2 separate regions of the Homo sapiens genome follow, and region 1 is linked to region 2. The links come from fine-mapping of genetic effects on gene expression. A gene starts in region 2. The other region holds a variant in brackets. All regions are shown on one strand. Distances are from middle to middle. Region 1 overlaps AZIN1 (antizyme inhibitor 1). Region 2 holds the start of GASAL1 (growth arrest associated lncRNA 1).

The links. PIP is the estimated chance that this variant, and not a neighbour inherited with it, causes the effect.
Region 1: its variant is the best candidate, but not a certain one, in a credible set for the expression of GASAL1 in lung (GTEx, PIP 0.82).

Annotation. Positions count from the first base shown.
Region 1 is chr8:102,824,633-102,829,019 of GRCh38, forward strand. It overlaps AZIN1 (antizyme inhibitor 1), which reads right to left. Exons shown (of 12, transcript NM_148174.4): 12 at 1,676-4,046. The coding sequence ends at 3,935. Among named protein-coding and RNA genes, the nearest start is that of GASAL1, 20 kb to the left of the region's middle. The variant A/T (reference allele first, on the strand shown) is at 2,304.
Region 2 is chr8:102,804,449-102,808,835 of GRCh38, forward strand. GASAL1 (growth arrest associated lncRNA 1) reads left to right here and starts at 2,582. Exons shown (of 2, transcript NR_149020.2): 1 at 2,582-4,105. RefSeq lists a silencer at 2,009-2,808 and an enhancer at 3,794-4,387.

The DNA of each region.
Region 1 (4,387 bases), 20 kb after region 2:
CTCAAATGTAGAAGACTAATTTTTGTTTTACATTTTGATTCCTGCCAATTTAAGTTTCTACTATTACTGTGTTTCTTTTCTTTTTTTGAGATGGAGTCTTGCTCTGTCACCCAGGCTGGAGTGCGGTGGTGCAATCTCCACTCACTGCAACTTCTGCCTCTCAGGTTCAAGCAATTCTCCTGCCTCAGCCTCGAGTAGCTGGCACAGGTGTGCGCCACCATGCCTGGCTAATTTTTGTATTTTTAGTAGAGATGGCATTTCACCATGTTGGCCAGGCTGGTCTCAAACTCCTGACTTCAGGTGATCTGCCTGCCTCAGCCTCCTGAATTGTTGGGATTACAGGCGTGAGCCACTGTGCCTGGCCTGTGCTTTAATACTATAAGGTTACATTAAAATTAAATCAACTAAAAGGCAGCAATACAAAACCTTCTCTGATGCCCAACCAAAAGTCCAACTTACAAGGACAAAAGAGAATGGTCAAGTACATGCTAAAGAGATCTTAATACCAAGCTATCAACCACTGGCAGTATCTGCCATTTGCATCCATGTGCCAGGCACTTTCAAGGCCTGGTAAGGTTAAGTTCTAGTGTCTTCATCCTACAGACAAGAAACCAAGGCCCAGAGCAACTTGTCCAAATCAGTATAATCAATCTAATAGGTAATAAGGGTCGTTTATTGAGCCCTGTGTGCCAGCCAGTTCTAAGCACCTTGTAACTGTTACATCCTTATAACCTTATGAAGCTGCTACTTTTACTACCATCATTTTCTTTCTTTTCTTATTAGAGATAGGGTCTTACTTTGTTGCCCAGGCTGGAGTGCAGTGGTGTGATCGCGGCTCACTGCAGCCTCCACCTCTTGGGCCCAAGCAATCCTCCCACCTTGGCCTTTTGAGTAGCTGGGACTACCAGCTAATTTTGAATTTTTTTGGAGAGACACAGGTCTCCCTACATTGCCCAGGCTAGTCTTGAACTCCTGAGCTCAAGCAATCCTCTCACCTCAACCTTCCAAAGTGCTGGCATTTACGAGCATAAACCACTGTGCCTGGCCTTACCACGATTTTCCATCTGGGAAAACCGAAGCACAAAAGGGTTAGGTGACTAGCCTATGTTCATACAGACAGTAAATGGCAGAGGCAGGATTTGAGTCAAGCAGACTGGAGGCAAGGTCTACACCTTTAACCACCACCCTATACTAGTGCATTGCCTGAATAATTAAGTAAATCTTTGAATTTAAAGTTACTCCCCAAAATATTAAGTCACCCAGTTAACTAAAGTGTTCAAAGAACAAAGAGATGATGCTTTTCATTTCAGCAGAGTTCAGAAGACTTCTTAAGGCCAAGACAGGTTAGGAAACTAAAATATATACTCTAAAAAGAAGAAAAAAGGAATTAAGCAATGTGTGGCTTCTCTAACCCAGTATTTCCATTTAATGGTATTAATGCCCATATTTACTTGGAATAAATCTAGCTTAATTTGTCAATCTATTCATTTAGTCCGGGTTTTAAATTGTTAGGAGGCTAGTGAACTGAAGTGTCTAGAAAAGGCTGTCCTGGAAACAGTGCTCACATATATACTGGACTTTACCAAAATTTCACTGTTCTATATATAACTTCCAGCATTTTTTAGCAGAATCAATTTTCTTTCTAATAAAGCAAGATTGTTAATACACATAAAGCTGATATGTAAAATTTTACCTCTATTTCAGATAGAAGCCAAAGTAAAACATGAGGAATAAAAACATTTATCTATGTATTCAGAATCACACACAAGTTACCTTTACAGTTCAATTTACTATATAGAAATCATTGGGTTTTATATTTGCAGTTAACTTTTGAACTGAGATTACAATATTATAACAAAAAACTTTACATTAATTCAGAACTTTTTAGCATACCAAATTGAAATACATAGGTTCAAATTTCAGATTTATGGCAAACAGTCTTCAAATACAATACAGACATTTCTTAAAAGTTACCGTATCATTCACATGTGATATTTGCAACTCTGAGCTATTTCTTATAGAACAGCTCTCCTGCAGATATGGCAAAGTTGATATGCCATGAAGTTCAAGGCCTGTATAGTCAAGCCAAGGACTCAAAGTTGCACCATCTTTAAAAAGGTTTGGCATTTCTGGACCACAACAATGCACAACATGTAAAGAAGGTAGGAAACAGTTCCCCCTCCTTGTTAAATGGTTAAAAAAAGTTACATGGTAGCTTGGAATTTTGCATAAAACCCCATAATATACCTTGGAAAAGTCCAAGGGCAATTTGATGGCAATGGATTGGGGCCCTATATATATAT[A/T]TTTTTAATAGAACCCATGAGATTTAAATGGGCATTAATCAAATCAAAAAATATTAAGCACCTACTGGTTTAAGAGATTTAAATTTATTAGAGATTCATGATCAATTTCTTTCCACCTCGAAATCAAGGTGTAAAAACCAGCTATTAAGTGCATTCCAAACTTCTCCTATGTAGCACAGGTAGAATTTTCTGTCCATTGGCACCAAAGTGAAGTCACATTTCCTCTTGGGAGACAGAAATTCCACACCTGAACACAGAGTAAGTTAGGAAAAAATGACCCCTGTTGTTTATTACTATTGTGATTCTGAGATCTAGGATTTCTAATATACTAGCAGTAAACAAAGCAAATTCCTGGCAACAACTGTCAGGTTAGTGATGCTAACTCCCTTCCCCCAACCACCATAAAATTTTAGTAAGAAAAGAATTAAAAGTAATGACTAAGCAGAACAAATTGGAAATAACAAGAAACTAAGGGGACAGTTCAAACCAACAACAAAAAATCCTAAATTTGAAATCACTGCAACTGAAGATAATAAGTGTGCTTCACCCCAACCCCCATCCCAACTCTGAATTTAAACATTCCGTGCAAAAGAGCAACAGGTTTCTGGATAAAGATGTAGCCCTTCTTTAAGTTTTAGTGCTCTGCAGTTTTCTGCAATTTTATTTCCCTCCCCCCAAGTTTATTCAAAGTATTTAACAGAATCTTCCATTTCAGCCAAAAGATTGTGATTCAAAGATTTACTAAGGTACTCTATGCATTCTATCTATACAGAAACACCTATTTATTATTACAGTTGATTTATGCAGGATTAACATTTTTGGTGTTAAAATTGTTAAACATCATGCTTACTGCACATCAACTCTCCATAATGAATCTGAACTTCACAATGATTTACCAAACACTTTACTTAAATTACTAATTAAATAAATGAAAAATGCACCGAGCCAAACAAAACTTAACTGGGCTATAAAGAAAAAAACCCTTCAAAACAGTCCATATACACATCTATTTCAAAACTACCTTTGCTAGCTAGCCCCTTTCCCAAAGTTTTAGCCTGAAAAAACAGTAAAATCTACACAAAATTTTATTGCAATCATACAAGGGTTACATTAGGTCAACAAATACTATGATGCAATTTTACATTTATTAAACTACAGTTCAAAGCACAAATTTACACATTCTAAATACACTAAACGTTATCTAATGAAGTCACACTGGTCTTCTAACATTTGATATATCTGGGTGAAAGACATGAACTTTACAAGACTTTAAACACAAATCCTTAGTATAAAAACTGTGTTCTTGTATGTAAACGATTTAATGGGGAACCCAATTAATGGGCTTCCATCTCCACTAAGTCATCCATTTTGTTGCATATTTTATTTTAAACGCTTAAGGGGTAGGACAAACTGGTAGGTTTAAATCTGGATACATTATCTAAATCTCCCATTATCCCCAATGAATTATAGATGAAAGCTGATTTTGTCTGGTCCCAAATAGCTATTACTAATAGTTTTTGTTGCCAAAAGAATTAAGAGAATAAGATTGTTTAAATTATTTTTCCACACTGGAATGTTGACCAGACAAGCTTAACCTGCAACTTCAGATCTAAAGAAGCGTTAATGCCTGTTTAAGCTTCAGCGGAAAAGCTGTCTTCTTGGCTCAGCTGAATGCAAGAAGGCACAAAGAAGAAGTTCTTCATCATTGAGTCTGAAGTAATTCCAGCATCTTGCATCTCATACCTACGTAGAAAAAAAATCAGCTAAATTCTCAGTTTAAGCCCAAAGACCACGTAATCACATAACAAATGGATAATAAAACAGGATTATAACTAGTCTTCCAAAAACCTTTAAAAGATCATCATTTTTCTATGATAGTCATGCACTGCAGAGTGATGTTTTGGTCAAAGACTACACATATGACTGTGGTATACCGTAAAATTACAGTGAAGTTTAAAAAGTCCTATCACCTCGTTACATCGCAGCAATCATGTCATAGCACAATGTATTATCCTTTCTATGTTTAAGTAACTTAAGATACACAAACGCCACTGCATTACAACTGCCAACAGTATTAAACAGAG
Region 2 (4,387 bases):
ATAAACATACACACCTACTATGTACCCATAAATTTAAAAAAATCTAGAAAATGATCAAATCTAAAATCTAAGCTAATTTCTATTTGAACTAAGAAAAATTGTTTTCCTTAAAAAAAAAAAAAAACGCAGATAGGGTCAAAACCCAAGATGAGGCTGTCTTGGAAGCAGAGACAGCACACAGGAAGCCCCATCAGACACAAAGGAAGCCTATGAGACCAAACGTGGGGGCAGAAGACAGAAGAGCCGACAGCTCATTTGTTTCCCTGGGAGTTCCACTAACGAGTGGCAAGGATGGAGTGCTTGCCTCCCAGTGGGCTGCTGGGTGGAGAGGAAAGCCGAATAAAGCAAAGCCTCTCAAAGCAGGCAAAGCATGGTAAAGGCTGTAGTGGAAGTGCCAAGGGTCAAGTTAACTCATGAGAAAAGCTTCATAAAGGTGGCAATCCAGCTGGGCCCAAGCCAAAAGCGTAAGTAATCAGAATTAGAAACGGTGGAGGAGTCAACCCCTACTGAGACAGTTCGGGTTCTCAGCCTGAAGGAAAATGTGGAAGTTGGAGGTTGTGGAGTTTGTGGCTTAAGCCACAGCCCCCTCCTACACCTGGCCTTAGCTCCCAGGATACCTGCCCCCCACTGGGCCAGGCCACGGACTTCCCAAAGGGCAACCACATAAAGCACAGGACCTTCCACCACTCACACTTTCCAGACCTATCCCTGGCCACTATTTCTTCCCTCTGATGTCACAGGGCTCTGCATCTTGTCCCACCTCAGCAAAATTAGACCCCCTGGTTTCCCAAGAGATGTCATTTTTAACTCTTTTCTACAGGCGCCTGGAGCACAGGGCTTCCCAGAAGTCTGATTCAATGCTATTTTGAGCTGGGTTAGATTGGCAGAAATGAACCACCCACCCTTGGAAAAGTCACACTTGGGAAAAGACTGCCCCAGCAGAGGTGGACTGGGAGCTCTTTCTCAGCATGAGTTTGAATGGGGGTCATATGGAGCAAGGAGACGCTCACATAGTTTCTGCAAAGCTGTGCTGACAAATAGCTCTGGACAGATCCAGACCGGTTCTGTTCACCCAGCTGTTATGCCGCTTCTGCCTGCAAGATGAGAAAGACACCTCCCCTTCCCAGGTTGGCATCATTTATTGAACCATGGCTTTGGAAAGAACAACAAGTTCAAATCCCGGAAAGAAGCTGAGCGTGAATTCCAGCCGGAGGCCCACCAATGACAGCCCTGTCTTGCTATCCTGGGGGGCATGGCATGGGTGGGCGGGGTGCGATGGGGTGGAGGGAAGGAAATCCAAGCACCTGTGGATGCTTACTGCCTTACTCTGTCCTCCTGGCTCCACGTCACCCTTCCTTCCTGCCTGACGTGATCAGGGAAATCTGCGGGGTTAAAGAAGCTTCTAGAAGCCACTTAGTCCCCCTGCAGGTAGATGCTTTTTTTAAGGGTCTCTTGCTCACTTTGAGCATTCTAGAACCACAGATGCAGCCTCTCAGAGTGGTTACCCAGCACCAACTCAGGGGCAGACCATAGTGCCCAGCCTTGTTACAGCGAGGAAGGTGACTCTCAATGGACTGGGGCTCTTGAATTCCTTTACCCTCAGACATACATCCTTCCAACCCCATCATCCCACGATGGTGACAGGGTCTGTGGTCAAGGGAGGGGGTCAGGTTAGGTCAGTGCAGTTCTTCAAGTCGGACCCCAAGCAGGCAGCACCAGTCCCCAAGAGTAGGGCTCGGCCAGAGCTGCTCCCATCAAAGGGAACTGGGTGGGGCCCTGTTATCCAGACACAAATATCTGCTGGGCCCCTGGGACCCAGGGTGTCCAAAGGTGGTTCTTTTCCTCCCTCAGAAACTTGGCCCAGGGCCTTTCCCAGCAAGTGCCTCCCCCTCCTCCCGCCCTCGGGTTCCCTTCCCAGCCACCCACTCAGTGAGGGCTTCAGCACGTGGCTGTGTGGGGCGGCGGGTTTCCTCTCCGCCCCGGCAGCTCTGCAGAGGGTGGTTTTCGCCCTCTCTTCTCCCCCATCCCCCGTGACTTCTTGTAAAAGGCTCCGGCGTCCCCACCCACCTCCGCCCTCCCGCGGCTGCCAGACCGGTGCCCGCCCCCGCCTCCCCCGGAGGCCGCGCTCTCTCCCCGCCCCTGGCAGCGGGCTCTGCTTCGGAAACTGTTGACTCAGAGGGTGGCCGGGCGGCCAGCGTCTGATGTCAGCCTGGAGCTGGGCCAGGGAGTGCAGGGCGGGCGGCGCTGGGAGCGAGGGAGGAAGGGTGCGGGGCCGGGCCGGGCTGGGTGGGCGCCCGCGGCAGGCGTAGGGGCTGCGCTCGGCGCTCCCGGCTGCGCGCTCGGCCTCGGCGGCGGCCCGGGCGCCCGTGACTCAGGGTGCGTCACCGGAGCAGATGCCCGGGGCGGTTGGAGGCTCCCGGGCTCCCGCTGACTCATCAGAAAGGCCTGCCGCGCGGCCCGGGGGGCGGGGGAACGTGGGGGACCGCGGGGAGCTGCCGGGCAGGCGGCAGCCGAGGTCGTTTGAGGCGCGCAGAGCCGGAAAACCCCACGGAGACGGCTGGGCGGGGGCGGGGCGATCGGCACTGACCAGGTCACCTGCAGCGCGGGCTGACGGCGGGCGACTGAAGGAGGGAGCAAGTCTCCCACCCCCAGCAGCCGGCGGCCGCTTCCGAAGTCTGCCCCCTTCCACTGCGGAGCGGCGCCCCGCGGGCCCCCAGCCAGCGCGCCCGAGGCGCCCCCGCCCCGTGTCGCTCGCGCTGCGTTATTGGGAGAAGGCGGTTCCTGAGCACCAGCACGGGCCTCGGTGACACCGGAGGTCGCTGGGGTCTTCCCCTTCCCCTTAAGACTCTGGGTCTGTCTGTGGGAAGAGCTTTCATTCCCCACCCCACTCTATGCCGACCCTCTCCGGGGGAGGCTCCACTGGCACTGTAGACACCACGTGCTGGGTAAAAAGGCCTGGTCCCAGCGCTTCCCTGTCACTGACTGCTAACCACAAGGCGCCGTGGCACTCAGGAAATGCGGCAGGGGGGCTGGAGAACTATCAGGAAGGGGTGTGGGCAGAGAAGAGGCTTCCACCCTGTCTTGGAACACGGACACAGTCCATGGCATTCAAAAGAGGTGGGAGGCTCCTCTGTGCACGTGCCTTCCGCCCCCGGGACAGGTGGAGGAGGGGATTTGACTGGTCCTCACCCTCTGCATTTATAGTCTGGGCACACCTTGGGCAGTGCCGCAGGAGGGCGCTGTGGAGTACAGGCACATGCAGAAGGTGTGGCGAGGGCTTCCTGGTGGAGCTGGCAGTAGGGCAGGGACCTTGAAAAGGAATGATTTGAACAGATCGGAAAAGACATTCCAGACAGAAACAAATGCCTGAAACCCAAACCGAGAAGCAGGAAAGAGCAGACTGCGTTCTCGGAATGGCAGGGAGTCCAGTTTGACTGGAAGACCTGAGGCTCAGAGGCGCATCACGGCCCAGATGCAGACCACAGAGGCAGGCACAGTGGCCCAGGAGGACCGAGGACCTGGAGTCACGGGGTTCCGCCCGCTGCCCCTGGGGAACCGAGTCATGCCAGTTCCCAGACAGATGAATTCCTTCCAAGAATTCCACAGTCCTGCTCAATCCTAGCCGCCAAGCCTCCTGGCCTTGGATGGCTGCTGTCTAATGCAGATCCTCTTTCATCCAGATTTCAAATATTTTTCCTATTCTGTCCTTTGATCACTAACGTTTATGTTTATCTACATCAGCATCCCTCAATCCTGACGGCACTCTGAAATTATCTAGGGGTGCTTTAAAAAAGAAAAATGTTGATGCATGGCCCTCCTCCAGGAAATCTGATTTTATTGGTCTGGGGTGGGGCCCAGGCATCAGCAGACTTTTAATGAGCAGTTAGAGAGGAGAACCACTGATGGAGATGGTCACCAGGGAGTGTCCAGGTCAGACCGCCACAGAAGAGTGCAGCCTCCTGGCCTTCAGACCCAACTGGGACAAACCCTGAGAACAGCCTTGGCAGACCTCCAGGGGCAGCTGGACTCCCTGAGGCTGGATGTTGCAGCCTCTCCCAGGCATCCACTCTGCAGCTGAGGCCAAAGTTTCCAACGGGAAGGGAGGGTGAGGCTTCTATTTGTTTCCCAAGAGCCAGCTGACCTTTGAAGCTAGTGATAACCACCACAAACCTCACTGGTGGGAGAACGAGGCACTGCAGCCAGTTCTCATCAACCCCACATCCCTGCAGGGGGCCCCAAGGCGGATGTGTCACCATCCTCTGCAACGCTGGGCCTCAGAGGTGGAGGAGGCCCAGCCATGGCCAGATGGGGGATCTGGGGAACAGGTCCTCTGCTTTCTGGGAAAATAGAGGTGATGATTCCTGGCCCCAAAGGTTCTTGTTGGGAG